2 linked regions of the Homo sapiens genome follow. The protein of the gene in region 1 interacts with the protein of each later gene in a biochemical or structural test. Each region holds a gene or a part of one and is shown in the gene's direction. Other genes may lie near its edges. The genes, in order: DCTN6 and PMEPA1.

Region 1 (8,563 bases):
CCTTAAGGCACAGATCGCTCATGCTATTGTTTGTGGTTTAAGAACACCTTTAAGGGGTTTTCTGCTCTGGGTGGGCCAGGTGTTCCTTGCCCTCATTCTGGTAAACCCACAATCTTCCAGCGTGGGCGTCATGGCCATCACGAACATGTCACAGTGTTGCAGATATTTTGTTTATGGCCAGTTTTGGGGCCAGTTTATGACCAGATTTTGGGGGCCTATTCCCAACAGGGAAGAAGAGGGCTCCCTAAGGAACTAAATAAGATAACATCATATTAAACATATTGAATGAAACCAAATCCCACATCAAATATAATTTCTAGGTATAGAAGAGTTGAATTGCAGTTGATTAGTTAAGAAAAAAGTTGCTTTGTAGACATTGAATTAAGTATGTACGTGTGGGTTTGGACACAGTGACTCATGCCTGTAATCCCAGCACTTTGGGAGGCAGAGGCAGGTGGATCACCTGAGGTCAAGAGTTCAAGACCAGCCTGGCCAACATGGTGAAACTCTGTCTCTAATAAAAATCCAAAAAAAAAAAAAAAAAAAAAAAAAAAAAAGGCCAGGCATGGTGGCAGGTGCCTATAATTCCAGCTACTCAGAAGGCTGAGGCAGGAGAATCACCTGAATCCAGGAGGTGGAGGTTGCAGTGAGCCGAGATCACGCCATTGCACTCCAGCCTGGGCAACAAGAGTGAAACTCCATCTCAAAAAAAAAAAAAAAGTATGTGTGCATTTATTTATTTTATTATCGAGACAGGCTCTTGCTCTGTTGCCCAGGCTGGAGTGCACTGGCATGATCTTGGCTCATTGCAACTTTGACCTCCCGGACTCAAGTGATCCTCCCACCTCAGGCCCCAAGTAGCTGGGGCTACAGGCACGTGCCACCATGCCTCGCTAATTTTTGTATTTTTTGTAGAGACAGAGTTTTGCCATGTTGCCCAGGCTAGTCTCGAACTCCTAACTCAAACAATCCACCTGCCTCAGCTTCCCAAAGAACTGGGGTTACAGGCGTGAGCCACTGTGCCTGGCCTTAGCATTAATTAATTCCTACCTGTACGGTTTACATTCTGGAATCAGTACATTTTATTTTCAGGTTTCAAACAGTTCGTTGATCCCCAAAAAGCCTATAGGCCCTAGACACTGTACCTAATACTGATAAAATGATCCTTTATAAGTATGCCATAGAAGTCTTTCAAATTAATATAAATACACATTGCTTGAAAATGGATAGGTGTTTACATGGTTGGCAGTGACAAAACACTCTAAATTCATTCATATACTTATTCAACAAGTTTAGAGGAATATCAACCATGCACCAGGCACTGTGGTTGGTGCTGAGTAAAGAGTGGGAACAAAACTCACATGGCTCTAACTTCATGGAACTTAAGTCTTTGGAGGAAATGGTAAGATAAGTAAGTATAGCTGGTGATGAGTGCAATCCTTACCCCACAGAGAAAATAATTAGAATAGGAAGGGTAGCCTATTTTTGATTAGATGGTGCTATGGTCTGAATGTTTTTGTCCCTCCAGAATTCATATGTTGAAATAATACCTTCAAGGTTCTGTCCTCTCTGCCGAGCCTCACATCTGATATTTTATTGACTACTTGGCAATTAAGAGGTGGGACATTTGGGAGGTGATTAGGTGATGAGGGCTCTCATCAGACACAGAATGTCCAGCGCTTTGATCTTGGACTCCCCAGCCTCTAGGACTGTGAGCAATAAATGTCTTTGTTTATAAATAACAGTAGTCGCACTTATCCATGGTTTCATCTTCTGTGGTTTCAGTAACCTGTAGTCAACATCAGTCCAAAAATATTAAATAGAAAATTCCAGAAATAAACAATTTGTGAGTTTTAAATTGCACACCATTTTGAGTAGCATGATGAACTCTCGTACCATGCTGCTCTCTCTAGGCAAGAACATGAATCATCCCTTTGTATCCACACTGTTGGTACTACCTGCCCATTAAAGCTTTCTCAGTTATCAGATACATTGTTGCAGTATCAGAGTACTTGTGTTCAAGTCACTCTTATTTTACTTCATAATGGCCCCAAAGCACAAAAGTAGCGATGCAGGTGATTTGGATCTGCCAAAGAGAAACTGTAAAATGCTTTAAGTGAAAATGTGAAAACTTCTTGATTTCAAAAGGAAAGAAAAAAAACTATATGCTGAGGTTGCTAAGATCTATGGTAAGAATAAATCTTTTACCCATGAAACTGTTAATGAGGAAAAGGAAATGTGTGCATAGTATATAGAGGGTTCAGTATTATCTGTGGTTTCAGGCATCCACTAGAGGTCTTGGAATGTATCCCCCGAGGATAAGAAAGGACTACTATACCCAGTCTAAGGTATAACTGTCCCTCAGTATGCTTGGGGAACTGGTTCCTGGACACCCTGATGCCAAAATCTGCAGATGCTCAAGCCCCTGATATAAAATGGTGTAGTATTTGCATATAACTAACTGATGCATATCCTCCCATATCCTTTCAATCATCTTTATATTATTCAGAATATCTAATACAATTCCTACATATCACTTCATTCATGTGGCTTCAATGTAGCACTTGGCATGCAGCAAATTCAAGTTTTGCTTTTTGGAAACTTGCGTAATTTTTTCCCCCAAATTTTTGATCCAACGTGGGTTGCTGTCAACCAGTCACAGATGTCAAACCCACAGATACAAAGGGCCAACTGTATTTTGTTATAGCAGCCAGAAAGAACTAAGACAGTCAAGGAGGGTTTCCCTGAGTGTGATGGTCAGTTTTTTGTGTCAACTTGGTTAGGCTACATTCCCAAGTCATTAGTCAAACACTAATCTAGATGCTGCTGTAAAGGTATTTTTGTGGATGTGATTAAAGCCCATCATCAGTTCACTTTAAGGAAGAGAGATTATCCTAGCTAATCTGGGTGGGCCTGATTCAATCAGTTGAAGGCCATAAGAGCTGAGATGGGCTTCCCTGAAGAAATTCCTCCTGTGAACAACAGCCTCACCCCTTGCATGAGAGTTCCAGCTTAGTGTACAGATTTTGGACTTGCTTAGCTGGGGCTCCACAATCATGTAAGCCAATTCCTTACAATAAGCCTTTTGATATCCATCTACTACTAGTTCTGTTTCTCTGGTTGGAAACTGAGTATGTGACATCCGAGACATAAAGGGTCAGAAGGTGTTAGGGTGGGGGCAAGTGGAAGCGGTTGGGGGTGGAGAGTCAGCTTTGCTTTTTTGGAGAATGAGGGTGTGATCGAACACATAGAAAGAGAAAGAGAGAAGTAGGCAGGGGCTGGATGTAGCTCAGAGATAGGTTATGGAAAGCAGTTTGGATTTTAGATTTTAAGAGGAAGGGGAAATAACTGAATTTGGCTCTTATTTTTAATTTTTTTCCATTAAAAAAATACATTATAGAAAAAATATATAGAGACGGGATCATGCTGTGTTGACCAGGCTGGTCTCCAACTCCTGGCCTCAAGCGATCCTCCCATCTCGGCCCCCCAAAGTGCTGGGATTACCGGTTTGAGCCACGCGCCTGGCCTCAATTTGTCTTTTAAAGGATGATTTTGACTACAAGAGAACTACTTGGATCAGGGTTGGGGGTGGGAGATGAGGAGGTGTGATTTCAGAGGCCAAGTACAGAATGAGTGAACAACTGGGAGAGACACATCGGCTGAGATTAGAGAGATGGTCCGGTAGACAAAAGTGTAAGCATGAGACCCGAGGTAGGACAAGCAGAACTTGCAGATCTATTACAGATGTAGGGGTGAGGAGTGCCAGGGTGACTCTTGAGTGTCTGGCTTGAGCAGCTAGGCAAATGGTGTGGATCAAAAAAGCAGCAGGTTGCAGGGAGGACGGCAGTGTTAATCGAAAGTCATGTTCTGTAAGTTTTAGGTTCGATACGACTCTGAGCGGAGATGTCAATTAGTCAACCGAATGTCAGGTGTGAAGATCGGCACAGAGGGCAGAACCAGAGACATTCATTAGAGAGCAAACAGGTAGAGGGCACTTAACCTATAGGAAGGATGCACTCATATAGAGCGAGAAAAGGGCCAGAAGGAGCCCTAATGAGTAGAGAAAGACAGGCTGAAAAGGACATCGGCGAGGTCAGAGAAATACCTTTAGGGTGTAATTACGCCTACGCGAGTGGGTAAAATGAGGGCATAATGACGCGGACTGGATTGCAATAAACAGCTTTTATTCTTTTATCAGAGACACGATCTAGCTTTTTAGCCCAGGCCGGAGTGCGGTGGCATCCTCACAGCTCGCTGCAGCTTCACTGGGCTCAGGCGATCCTCTCGAGTAGCTGGGGTACAGGCGCAGGCCACCGTGACAGGCTTTTTTTTTTTTTTTTTTTTTTTTTTTTTGAAGAGAGGGTCTCACTATGTTACCCAGGCTAGTCTCGCAGTCTGGCACTCCTGGCCTCAAGCGATCCTCCTGCCTCGGCCTCTCGGCCTCCCAAAGTGCTGGCCTGTGCCCAGTCAATGGCTGTTCCAAATTAGGGTCTACCCATCTCTATGCAGGGCTAAAGTCCGCGGGCGGCCCCGCACCGCTACCAAAAGTACAGTCCTGTGCGCCCAGACGCGACGCAAACAAGAGTCGCAAGCTTCCGGGTCCCCGCCCCACCCCGGCTCCGCCCCTCCCCCAACCCTGCCAGGCTCTCCAATCGCATGTGGAATTATCGCTCTACCCAGGCGGTGGTGTCGATCTACGTTCCAATTGGGGCCGTACCATGGCGGAGAAGACTCAAAAGAGGTGGGTTTGCTGCTTGAGAAAAGCCTTTTCTCAGCTTTCCGTAGGGGTGGAACCTGTTCCTGGTCGCCAATGGTGGCGACTCAGAAGGTGTCTCATCCTGGGCATTCGGGCCGAAGGTACCTGAAGCCCAGACCTGGCGTCCACTGAGGGAGGGGGCGACGGAGTGGGGGCGGGGAGGGTTGAGAAGGGACGCGGAGTCGCTGCCTGGAAGGTTTTTGTTCCTGTCTGGCCGTCCCTCCCCACATGCGCCTGCGCAGAGGGGGTCTCCCGGCCGGGAGGGCGGGGGGGGCTGTGAGGGGAGGGTGACGTCAGCTTTTTCCTGGGGAAGGCCGGCTCCCTTCTCCCGCATAATCGGCGGTGCTTGGCGCCGCTGTACCCCACGGCTTGGCGCTGGATTCTCTGCTGCATGTTGCGAGACCCCCACGCCAGTGCTGGCCGCACCCCAGGCCCTTCCTGTCTCTGGAGGGTGGGGTGTGTAAAGGGATTTACGGTCGCTGTCAAAAGGGGGGCCGCGCCTGGACTTGAACTGTGACACACACACACACACATTATATAGATGCAAGGAGTACTTGCGCAGATTTGTTGCATAGATAAATTGCGTAATGGTGAAGTTGGCTTCTAGTGTACTTACCACCCAAATAGTGAACATTGTATCAGATGGGTAATTTTTCAGCCCTCAAACCCCTCCTACCCTCGCTGCTTTTAGAGTCCCCAGTGTCTGTTATTTCCCTCTTTATGTTTATGTGTACTCATTTTAGCTCCCACTTAAAAGTGAGAACATGTGCATTTGATTTTATTTCTGAGTTATCGCGTAAGGTAATGGCCTCCAGTTCCATCCATGTTGTTGCAAAAGACATGTTTCCTTTCTTTTTGATGGCTCTGTAGTATTCCATCGTATAGATACACCACATTTCCTTTATCCAGTCATCCGTTGATGAACACTTAGGTTGATTCCATACTTTGCTATTGTGAATAGTACAGTGATAGTCATAGGAGTGCAGTTGTCTTTTTAATACAATGGTTTCCTTTGAGTAGATCCTGGGTCGAATGGTAGTTCCGTTTGGATTGGTAGCTCTATATGGATTGCTGGGTCCAATGGTACTTGTGTTTAGTCCTTTGAGAAATCACCATACTATTTTCAATAGATGAACTAATTTATATTCCCACCAATAGTGTATAAGCTTAGAACTGTGACATTTTTTGCCAGGCGTGGAGTGGACAAGCTCCTTTGTAAACATGTGGGGACAGGAAGTTTGGCTTCTTCTCCGGTAGTCTTCATTGCTGGGGGCTGTTGGTGGCTGTTGGTGGCTGGGATGAGACAAGTGCATAAGTAAAGCCATTTCGAACAGCAGCAGTGTTGAGCTCCCTCTGCTGACTATTTTTGACAAAGAAAACTGACATTGTTTCTGGTGCCATAAATTAAAATGTAGATTTTTCTTCCATTTAAGTAGATACTCTGTAATCTTTTTTCATAAGCTAAAGAGGAACAGATGTACTATAAATATTATGTGCAGTAGATAGCAGTAGATAGTAGCTTACAGTGAAGATTAAGGTATTGTTGACTTGTTACTTTTACAGATCTGAGGTTAAGTCTTGCCCTCCCATCTGCCGGCTCACCTCTCTGCTCCCACCACTCCGAGATACAAGGGGTCCTTGCAGAGATATCGGGACCACGTTTTAGTTGGCCTAGTGGCCTGCCCCACTGAGAAGTGTGCTGATTGTGACGCAAGCATTACCTGGGATCTCTCCCTTGGGCGTAAAACTGAAGGCAGGGGGCATTTGTGAGTCTCTCCTACTCTCAGTTGCCCAGGACAAGTTCAATGTTAGATAATGCTCTTTTCATAATGAGAAGGAAGCTGAGGAAATGGAAAATTGCAATGAGAAATAAGGTCTAAAACAAGAGACATTTTATAGAGGCTAATGTATTTGACCAGGGCTTAATAAAATTGCATATTTTAACAAAAAAAACCCACTTTAAATGAAAAGTATCAGAGAAATGACATTTACAGCTGGTGATACATTCAAGGACAGTGTCGCTCATTTATCATGGAAAAACATCTGGAGTGACAGGATGTTTCCAGAAAACTTTCAACTAGAAGACAGATGACTGATTTCAGGACAGTGATGCCCCAGGAATGAACTCTGCTCCAAGAAATTTCTAGTCTCTGAATTTCAGTTTTTTCTTCTATAATATGAGAGGGTTAGACCAGGTGATTTTCTTCTAATCTTACTAAAATCTTTCTTCTTCAATACAGCAGGAGGGCTACATATTTTCTGTTATTTCAGTAGATTGACTTTTTTTTTTTTTTTTTTTGTGAGACAGAGTCGCTCAGGCTGGAGTGCAGTGAAAGCTTTGCACCATGCCTGGTTCCTTTTTTTTTTTTTTTTTTTTTGAGACGGAGTCTCACTCTGTTGCCTAGGCTGGAGTGCAGTGGCACAATCTCTGCTCACTGCAACCTTTGCCTCCTGGGTTCAAGCGATCATCCTGCCTCAGTCTCCAGAGTAGCTGGGACTACAGGCACCCACCACCACACCTGGCTAATTTTTGTATTTTTAGTAGAGATGGGGTTTCACCATGTTGGCCAGGCTGATCTCGAACTCCTGACCTCAAGGAATCTGCCCACCTCGGCCTCCCAAAGTGGTGGGATTACAGGCGTGAGCCACTGCACCTGGCCCAGATTGACTCTTGACAGGCTGTATCACCCAGAAGGACCATTGGTAGGATTTCATTGACTTACGCCTTATAAAAAGTCAGAGCCTAACAAAATGATGGAAACAGCTGGAGCTGTGTCTATTCTCAAAACCATTTCTTGAAGATAGACTCAGGGATTATTAGTTTTTTCTATTTGATACATGTTTTTTTGTTTACTTAGAGCTTTAAAAATTCATGGCGGTGTGAAGGTTTGTCCACCCTAATTTGTGGAAGAAAAATTTGTGTATGTCTTCTTTTTTTTTTAGTTCATCACACCAGTAGGGAAGTTGGTACAATCTTAAAAATAGTTTTCATCTTACTTTGCATGTATATTAGGGAATACTTGGGGGGAAGATTCTGGCATAGAAATGATGGAGAGACATGTTAATGAAAGAATCTTTACCCTTCTGACTCTCAGAGCTGTATTTTTAGAACTCTCTTATGAGCTTCAGAATCTGTATTTTCAGTCGCTTATTGGATATATCTGGTGACCATTCCATAGATACCTCAGACTGAGTTTATCTAAAATTTAGCCAAATGACTTTTTTCTCTAAAATCTACCCCTCCTCCCATAGGCTATTCTCAGATGGTGCCATTAGTTTTCCAGATCAGAAACCTAGAGGCTTTGACCTTGCTCCCTAGCTCCAGACTTTTGATTAGTTTTCTTTTTTTTTTTTTTTTGAGACAGGGTTTCACTCCATCACCCAGGCTGGAGTGCAGTGGTGCAATCTCAGCTCACTGCAACCTCTACCTCCTGGGCTCAAGCGATCCTCCCGCCTCAGCCCCCCAAGTAGCTGGGAGTACAGGTGTAAGCCACCATACCCAGCTAATTTTTGTATTTTTTGTAGAGATGGGGTTTTACCATGTGACCCAGGCTGGTTTTGGTTGTTTTTCTGGCATAAGTGAAGCAGAGTCACAGCAGCTGATTTTGAGCCCTGGAATTTGAGCTTCCCTCTCCATCAGGAATCATCCCTTCCCAGGAAGGGGACAAGATGGCACCAGTTTCCTTATTTCACTCCATGCCCCTCACACCCATCCTTCTGTAGTTGATATGGTTTGGCTGTGTCCCCACCCAAATCTCATTTTGAAATGTAGTTCCCATAATTCCCACATGTTGTGGGAGGGACCAG
Region 2 (8,138 bases), on another chromosome or scaffold:
TGACCTTTGGGACTGACTTGAGCTCAAATCTCCCACCTTGGGGACAGAAGCCAGTCAGGGAACACCTGGCTAAGCAGGCTTGTACTCTGCAGCCCAGCAAACCTCAGCATTTCCAGGGACCATCAGGGGAACGAGGGATGCTTTTTGTCCCCAGAGGAGTGTCAGTAATTGTGACAATGGTGACAGTTGAGTGTGCTACGTTCTGTCCCGTTCTGAGCTCTCGCATCCATTATTTCACCCCTGCCCCGGTTGGTTCTTTTTTTTTTTTTTTTTTGACAGATGAGGTAACTTCCTCTCAAGGAGGTAGATGCGCACAGCATCACACAGACAATGGATGCACGAGGACTGGACCAGAACATCAGAACCACATCCTCAGATTCCCGGGGCAGGGGGCGGGCGGACTAACGCCGTGGGCGAGCTAGGAAAATTTAGCAGGAGAATGAAACCCTTCCCCCTTTTGAGTTCCTATATGGCGGCTCTGGGCTCAAGTCTCAACCTTGCTCCTAGTTGCATCTTCTAGGGCTACTTCTCCCTAAGCCTCAGTTTCTTCATCTGCAAAATGGGCATGGTGATGTTACCTAAATTGGGGAGGCTCAGCTCAGTGGCCCCGGGTCATGTGTTAGAATCATGACAATACTTACAGTGACTACAGTGAGTTTGGGTGTGCCCTCTCCTGCTCTGTCCCCTGTGGCCTATGACTGCTTGGCAATGTGTCCTGTGGTCACAGCAGAGTTGAGCCTAGGTCAGGGACAGTGGTAGGACCCACCCCTGCAGGTGTCATACTGGGCATTTGATCTGGGATGTCTTTGTCCATGCCTTGGTAAAGGGGCAGTCTGTCAGATTAGGGAAACTGAGGCAGGATTGGTGTGGCTCCATATCTGCCAGTAGTCACTAAGTGACCTGGGGCCCAACTCTTGGCCAGAAGTCCTGAAGCCGCCTGCCCTGCAGATGCCTTGGGTGTGGCCTGCTTGGCCCTTTTAAAACTCTTAAATGAGGTTCCAGCCTTAAAGGACCACAGCTTCACAGCCGGCTCCAGGGTCCTCTGGAGAGAGGGAGGGATGCGGCCGCGCTGGGCCTTCTCTCCTTCCGCCTCGCGTTGGCAGTCCTGCTGGGGTTCCTTCCCTTGCCCGCGAGGCATCTGATCCTGAGAGTCCGGCTCTCAAGCTGCGACTGGGAATGGGCCCCAGCAGCCTCCCTGCGCTCCTCGGAACAAATGCAGGCACGAAGAGGATTCTGCGAGCTGCCGCGGGTGGAGAGCCGTGTTTATATTGGTGCCGCTTCATACACACATCATGTTTTGAACTTGACTCCAAGGCCTTTGCGGGGAGGCACCTTTCTCTCCCCCAAGGGGTCTTTGCTGGTGGATTCACGGTGCCTGCCCAGAGGGATGTGTGGGACTTAGTGTGGGGAGGGAGCCCATGCTTGATGAACTCGGCCTGAGTGGGCCCTGATCAGTGCGTCGTAGAGGCCCGCATGCTGAGTCTCAGGCATCCCTGGGGTGGTGTGGGGTGGGGACCGACAGTGTCAGGGCGTGGCTGTCCCAGGCCAGGTGAGTCCCGGGACCAGGCCTGTGGAGAGGGTGGCTGCCCACAGCCCTGCTCCCGTGATGCCAGGTGGGAACACGGCTGGGGCCAGGGACGGTCGGTGCGCGTGCCCTTGGGTCTCTGGTTTGCGACCGACCTCGCCAGCAGGCACTGCATGGTCCACTCCCCAGAGAATGCATTCCTGTCCCCTAAAGCTGAGCGTCTCCTGGAAGCAGCACCATGGGTGTGAAAGTGCGTGGAAGGTGCCTCCTCACCCCATGCCCAAGGGTGGTCTTCGTTGGACCTGTTTGTGGGCCCCAATGCTGCTGTGCCTGACCAGCCTTCCTCCCGCACAGCATCCGCGCCGGTGGGGCTTGACTGGAGCTGGATGGAGATTTCGGGGCCTCCTTGGCCCAGGGTGTTGCCTTCCTGATGGGTGGGGGTGACCCGGCTGCTGGCTGGAGCACCTCTCTTGCCCCCCTCAACACCTCCAGGTCTGGGCATGTCCAGGGGCATCCAGGAGGGTCTGGGTTCCGGCCTCTGCTCACCTATACCCTCTGCCTGTGCTCCACTCTGCCCCGCACTCCGTGCCCTGCACCAAAAGCCTCAGTGCCCACCTTACAGGGAGCCCTCCAGGGTCTTCCATTAGATGCTCCCTCTGCGATTCCAGAGCAGGTCATGTCTCTTTGAGGGTGGATGGGTTTGGGCCACCCTTGTTCTGGTGGAGCCAGGATGGAATTGAGCATCCCGTGTCTGGGTCCACCTCCAGGGAGCACTACATGCTGAGCACATGTCCCCCGCACATCCTGCTGCCCACTGTCCCCCTGCTGCCCACCGTCCCCCCGCTGACACAGGGAGACTGCGATGGACTCAGAGAGGGCCCCCAAGAGCCAGGCTGGGACCCGGGCCCTCTGAGAGAGCCACTGTGCTTCCCTGCCACCACCCTGCTCCTCTCCAGGGTGCTCCTGAGCCGTAGTCTCGGCAACCCTTGCAAATCTCCATCTCCCTAAGCCTGGACCCAGGCCCTTGGCTCACCAAGTCTAGCCAGCAGTCAGTTGTAGTTTCTCTTTTCTAGAGAGTTTTTCTCTCTCCTCTCCCATGTGAATTTTCCTGGGCCAGTGACCCAATGGGAGTTGGTGGCCCAGGGACCAGGGTGACGCTCTTATGCGCTACTGAGCCCGGTGCTCATTTCTGGGAGCGTTTTTCTCACTCTGTGGATACAGACGTCCAAAAGTCAGATCCCCCTGCCCCTGGGGCCGAGCCTGGCGGGGCCAGGAGAGCCGTGAGGGTTTGTCCACACCCATTCAGTCTGCAGGGGCCTCCTCCATTGCCCCTGCATCCCACCGGCCCTGCAGCCCCAGCTACCGTCTCACTGCTGTCTGGGTCCTGCGGGCTGCCAGGGCCCGGGACAGGGACAAAAACAGCCACACACCTCCCTCCCTCCAGGGCTGATGTGGGCTGGGCCCCTGGAGACAGCTGGGGAAGGGGGAACTGGGGTGAAGAGTGCACAGGGTTGGGGGGCAGGGAATTGCAGGCCCCGGGGGTGGGGGGGCGTGGGTGTTACACAAAGCCAGCCCTGTGTGTACCCTGAATGCGGCTTTATCCTGAGTGCTAACAGACGGACCTGGGCCCTACAGAATCAGGCCAGGCTGCCCCGGCCCTGGACCTGCCTGTCTGGGGAGACAGGAGGTGTGGCCACAGCGACCTGGGTCTGAAGCCTGATCTCTCCTGGCCAGGAACATGCGGGTGTCCCACAGGCGGCCCAGGGCTTGGGGCCTGAGTTCCCAGCAGGCAGGGCCGAAGCCTTCTCGGGGCTTGGGAAAGCCCCACCAAGCCTAGTGGGAGGACGCGCCAGCTCTAGGGTCTTGGACTTCTCGAGGCAATCACTTTTCCCTCTGAGCCCGTGTCTCCTCACCCGTGAAATGGGGATGATAATAAAAACGCCCGTTCTTAGGTGTGCTCAGCCCACAGCATGACCGACTGGATTGGATCATTCTTTGTCATGGGGGACAGTCCTGTCGGTGCAGGACGGTTACCACAGCCCCTGGCCTCCACCCACTCCATGCCAGGAGTACCCCCCAGTTGTGACAACCAAAAATGGCTCCAGACATCGCCACATGTTCCCTGGGTGCAGACGTGGCCCCAGCTGAGAAACACTGGCTCATTAGCAGTGTAGACAATGGCGCGCTGAGCCCTGGGTGCAGATGCGGCCCCAGCTGAGAAACACGGGCTCAGTAGCAGTGTAGACAGTGGCACGCTGAGCCCTGGGTGCAGACGCGGCCCCAGCTGAGAAACACTGGCTCAGTAGCAGTGTAGACAATGGCGCGCTGAGGGTGGCACAGATGCATAAAGTGCCCGAGACGGGGAAGTTCTGGAAAACCTGTTGGGGAAGAAGGAGTGGCAGTGGACACAGGTGTGGGAGTGCTTCTGTGTGGAGAGGCGTCTGCCACTTCACAGACAGTGACATTCCCACCTAGGATGGGCTGCTTTCCTGCCTTGGGGAGAGCGAGGCTGGTGGCAGGAGATGGCTGGGCCCCCCGGGTTTGGAGTGTGCTTGCCTGGGCTGTCTGATGGCCCGAGCGCCTGGCATCGGCTCTGCACGGCCTGTTTTTTCTCCAGTTGCCACCTGACACCTGCCCACCCCGATCCCCCTCCCCCGGCTTTGGTTCCTCGGTCCTGGGAGGAGGAGGAACTGAGTCAGTGGCACTGGGCTTGAACTGGGGCCCCCAGGGAGCCTGGCTAATTGCTTGTTAGTGCCAGGGAGCCCTGGGGAGTCCTCCTTGCCCCCATGCCAGCCGGGGTCTGGGGAGTCACATTCCTGCACACCTTGGGCAGGGTGTCCTGGGCAGGGCGAAGCTGGAGGAGCTTTGGCCCCGGACGCTGCCGGCTGGTGCCCACTCTGCCGTGTCAACTCCAAGGGACCCGGCGTCTTGCCCATTGCTGGGGGCTCTGCTGGCACCGTGCTCGGCCAGCTGCCGAGGCCGCTTCGGCACAGACCCGCTTGAGTCAGCAGAAACTGCCCGGCTCAGGCAGGATCAAAATAACCTTCTTCCTATTCCAGCACTTGAGGGTTTTTCCGCCTTCTAGGGGAAAAACAAATCAAAAACCAAAAAAGAAAAAACAAAAAAACCCAACCTTAGAAAATGCGAATGGCAACATCCGCAGCCATCTGGAATGTGGGTTTTCTGAGGCCTTTTCACCAAGAGGAGGGTCCTGACACCCCCGTCCTGTTGAGCGTGGCGTGTGTTTGTGAGTCCTGGGATGGATGTGTGTGTGTGGGCACGTGTGGTGCGCTGTGTCTGTGTGTGTTTGTGTCTGTTGGGAAGTGTGTGTTGGGATGTTGACTTGGGTGTGGGACTGTTGAGGGGTGTGTGTTGGGGTGTTGATATGTGTGTAGGAGTGTTGGGTCGTGTGTTGGTGTTGACGTGTGTGTAGGAGTGTTGGAGTATGTAGTGTTGTTGACGTGTGTGTAGGAGTGTTGGGGTGTTGTGTGTGGAGGAGTGTTGGGGTGTTGTGTGTGTAGGAGTGTTAGGGGTACGTGTTGGGGTGTTATTTGTGTAGGAGTGTTGGGTCATGTGTTGGTGTTGATGTGTGTGTAGGAGTGTTGGAGTATGTAGTGTTGGGGTGTTGTGTGTGTAGGAGTGTTAGGGGTACGTGTTGGGGTGTTATTTGTGTAGGAGTGTTGGGTCATGTGTTGGTGTTGACGTGTGTGTAGGAGTGTTGGAGTATGTAGCGTTGTTGACGTGTGTGTAGGAGTGTTGGGGTGTTGTGTGTGTAGGAGTGTTGGGGTGTTTTGTGTGTAGGAGTGTTAGGGGTACGTGTTGGGGTGTTATTTGTGTAGGAGTGTTGGGTGTGTGTTGGTGTTGACGTGTACTTAGGAGCGTTGTGTGTGTAGGAGTGTTGGGGCATTTGTGTTGGTGTTGTGTGTGTAGGAGTGTTGGTGTGTTGACATATGTGTAGGAGTGTCAGGTGTGCATAGGTTTGTGTACACACGTTCACATGTAGCTCCTCTTTGTTTAATTCCACAAAGCTTCACTCCCAAACTCAGTGCCAACTTCCTCTCTCCGCACTCAGGGGTCCCCTTCTCCTCCCAACTGCTCCCTCCCTGGGCCCCTAAGAAGGGTCTGTGACCGTCTGCCCGAGCCTTTGCCCAGCGACAGGAGCCAGTGCGCAGGGCTCCCTTTCTGCCAGTCAGCTCACGCTGTGCATCTGCAGAACGGCTCCAGGAGGCTCTGAGAGCAGAGAGCAGGGCCTTCCTCCTGCCTGTCCCGTTACCTCCTTCCGGTCAGTCCCTACAGAGGGGGTGTCTGGGTCCCAGGACACCTTTGAGGTGCTCTCCCAGCCAGCAGTACCCCCTCCTCCGCCGTGAGAGCAGCTTCCCTGCACGTACCCCAGCCCCAGGCATCGCCTGTGACCTTGCCGGGAGAGTGGCGGGGGCTTTCCTGAGTCTGGGTTGCACTCTCGTCCCCCTAGGTGGGTGAAAAAGCTCAAAAGGGCTGAGCCCTGAGCACAGCGACCTGCAGGTGTCCAGGGTCTCACGTGTCCCTCTTTGTCTCCACAGCGGAGCTGGAGTTTGTTCAGATCATCATCATCGTGGTGGTGATGATGGTGATGGTGGTGGTGATCACGTGCCTGCTGAGCCACTACAAGCTGTCTGCACGGTCCTTCATCAGCCGGCACAGCCAGGGGCGGAGGAGAGAAGATGCCCTGTCCTCAGTAAGTGCCCCGCCATCCCATCTGTGGCCTGAGGGTGCGGCAGTGGGACGCCCCTTGTAAAAACTCAGACGGGATCCAATGGCAGCGTTTGCAGGAAACAGATTCAGGGCAGGAAGACAGGGGCTGGGGAGCCCACCTGACAGCAGCTTCCTCCCCTGAAATGGGAGGAAAGCACCCGCCAGGCGGGCCTCAGAGATGCTGGAGGAACGTGGGGAATGAAGAGCTGGGCTGGGAAGAGGCTTCGTGATCCACTCACGCACTCAGCTGACTCTCGAGCAGCCTCGGGTCGCAGGCTCTGTGCAGGGCCTGGGGAGAGGGCAGCACACAGGTCCTTGCTGTCATGGAGCTGACGTTCCAGGAGGGAGATGAGACGCCCAGTGGTGATAGCGCCATGCAGGAGATGCGACCACTGGGACCTGGGGGAGCCTCTGCGAGGAACCCTCGGCTAGGGAGGCAGGGCTGGGCTCACAAGCAGCGCAAGCTGACCCCCGTCTTGACCCACATCTCTCGAGGCTGAGTGGAGACAGACCTAGAGAGATGAGGCTGAAAGCAGGGAGGCACCTGGGGCAGGCAGCACAGGAAGGCATTCTGGGTCCACACAGAGGCCTGACACAACAGGATGGTGGAGACGAGGGGCCGGCATTTGGCTCTTACCCACCGGGGTAGTGGTGGGAAAGGTGCCTGCAGTCCTGCAGCCCTGACCCAGACGGAAGGGAGGTGGCGGCCCTGCCCTCGTGCCCGTGCTATGCTGACATCTGGTCATGTGGTCACAATGCCTTGGAGAGCCATAGAGGCAACAGGACACCAGGTCCCGGGGCCTAAGTTTAATCCCATCTCCACCAGTACTGGCCACGTGCCCTCAGACCTGTCCCTGATCTACAAAATGGGGCTTCAGATCCCCCATTTGTAAAATGGGCTGACAGTCACATCCACCTCCCCAGAGATTCAGGGCTTTAGCACAGAGCACGGGTCTGGTCATTACTGGCTATAAAAGCACTTCCATCCATCCATCCATCCACCTGACAGATCTCTACCCAGCACACACACGGGGTATGCAAAATTCCCCCTGCGTTTGGGAAGTGGCTGTGAGCCAGTCCCAGGGGGTGCTGCTGGTGAGTTGGATGGGCGCAGACAGGAGCAGGTGCACGGATGAAGGAAGCCGAGGGCCGTGGCCAGGAAGTTGGGGCGAGCTGCTCTTGAGGCCGTGCTGTGCAGGACCAGGTGAAGTGGGCGCGGGAGTGTGAGGAGGACAGAGCCCTGCAGGAGGGACCCCGCTCTCCATTACAGTCCTGGGTGTTGATCTCTCAGAGTTGTGAGCATTGGTGGGTGTTCTGGAAACCCCAAGAATTTCCCTTTCGAATCTCCACAAAGTCAGGGGCAAACAGGGCAGATCTGGGTCGGTGGGAACTTGCCCGCCTCTGACGGTGAACTCCCGGCTCCATGTCGGCCGCCTGAAGCCCGGCTGTTCGGTATCCTTCAGCAGGTGGACCAAAGGGCGGCACAGAGTTAATCTCTTAATGGCTTCCATCTCTGCACCCAGGATGTGTAACTCAACCACGTGGGGCAGGAAGCGGCTGTTTAAAGAGCAGGCTGGGAACTGTGGGGAGGAGGTGGCACGTGGCCAGCCCTGGGGCTGCGGCACGTCTCTGAGCCGGGGCTCACCAGGTGTGGGGAGGACTCACAGAACAGGCAGCACTGAGTGTGGCCTCCCCACTTCTGGGGACGCCTGGGGTTGGTGGTGGCGCCCAGAGTCCCTGGGCTGAGCCAAGTCAGCTGAGAAGCCTGTTGGCCACAGTCCCTAGCCGGAAGGCCTGTCCCTGGCAGGTCTGGACACCTCTGCTTGCATCAGGCCCCAGCCTCAGTGCGTCACCAGGTTGCCAGGGCAAGGAGCATCAGCCC

Evidence for each region.
Region 2: the proteins of DCTN6 (region 1) and PMEPA1 form a complex in vitro, tested with the Homo sapiens proteins (one study listed by BioGRID).

What each region holds. Positions count from the first base shown.
Region 1 is NC_000008.11:30,151,666-30,160,228, forward strand, and holds the start of DCTN6 (dynactin subunit 6), read left to right. Parts: upstream 1-4,703; 5' UTR 4,704-4,718; coding exon 4,719-4,741; exon of another isoform or gene 4,742-4,995; intron 4,996-5,506; exon of another isoform or gene 5,507-6,217; intron 6,218-6,358; exon of another isoform or gene 6,359-6,445; intron 6,446-8,563. UniProt on the Homo sapiens protein: Part of the dynactin complex that activates the molecular motor dynein for ultra-processive transport along microtubules.
Region 2 is NC_000020.11:57,657,644-57,665,781, reverse strand, and holds part of PMEPA1 (protein TMEPAI), read left to right. Parts: intron 1-6,084; coding exon 6,085-6,239; intron 6,240-8,138. UniProt on the Homo sapiens protein: Functions as a negative regulator of TGF-beta signaling and thereby probably plays a role in cell proliferation, differentiation, apoptosis, motility, extracellular matrix production and immunosuppression.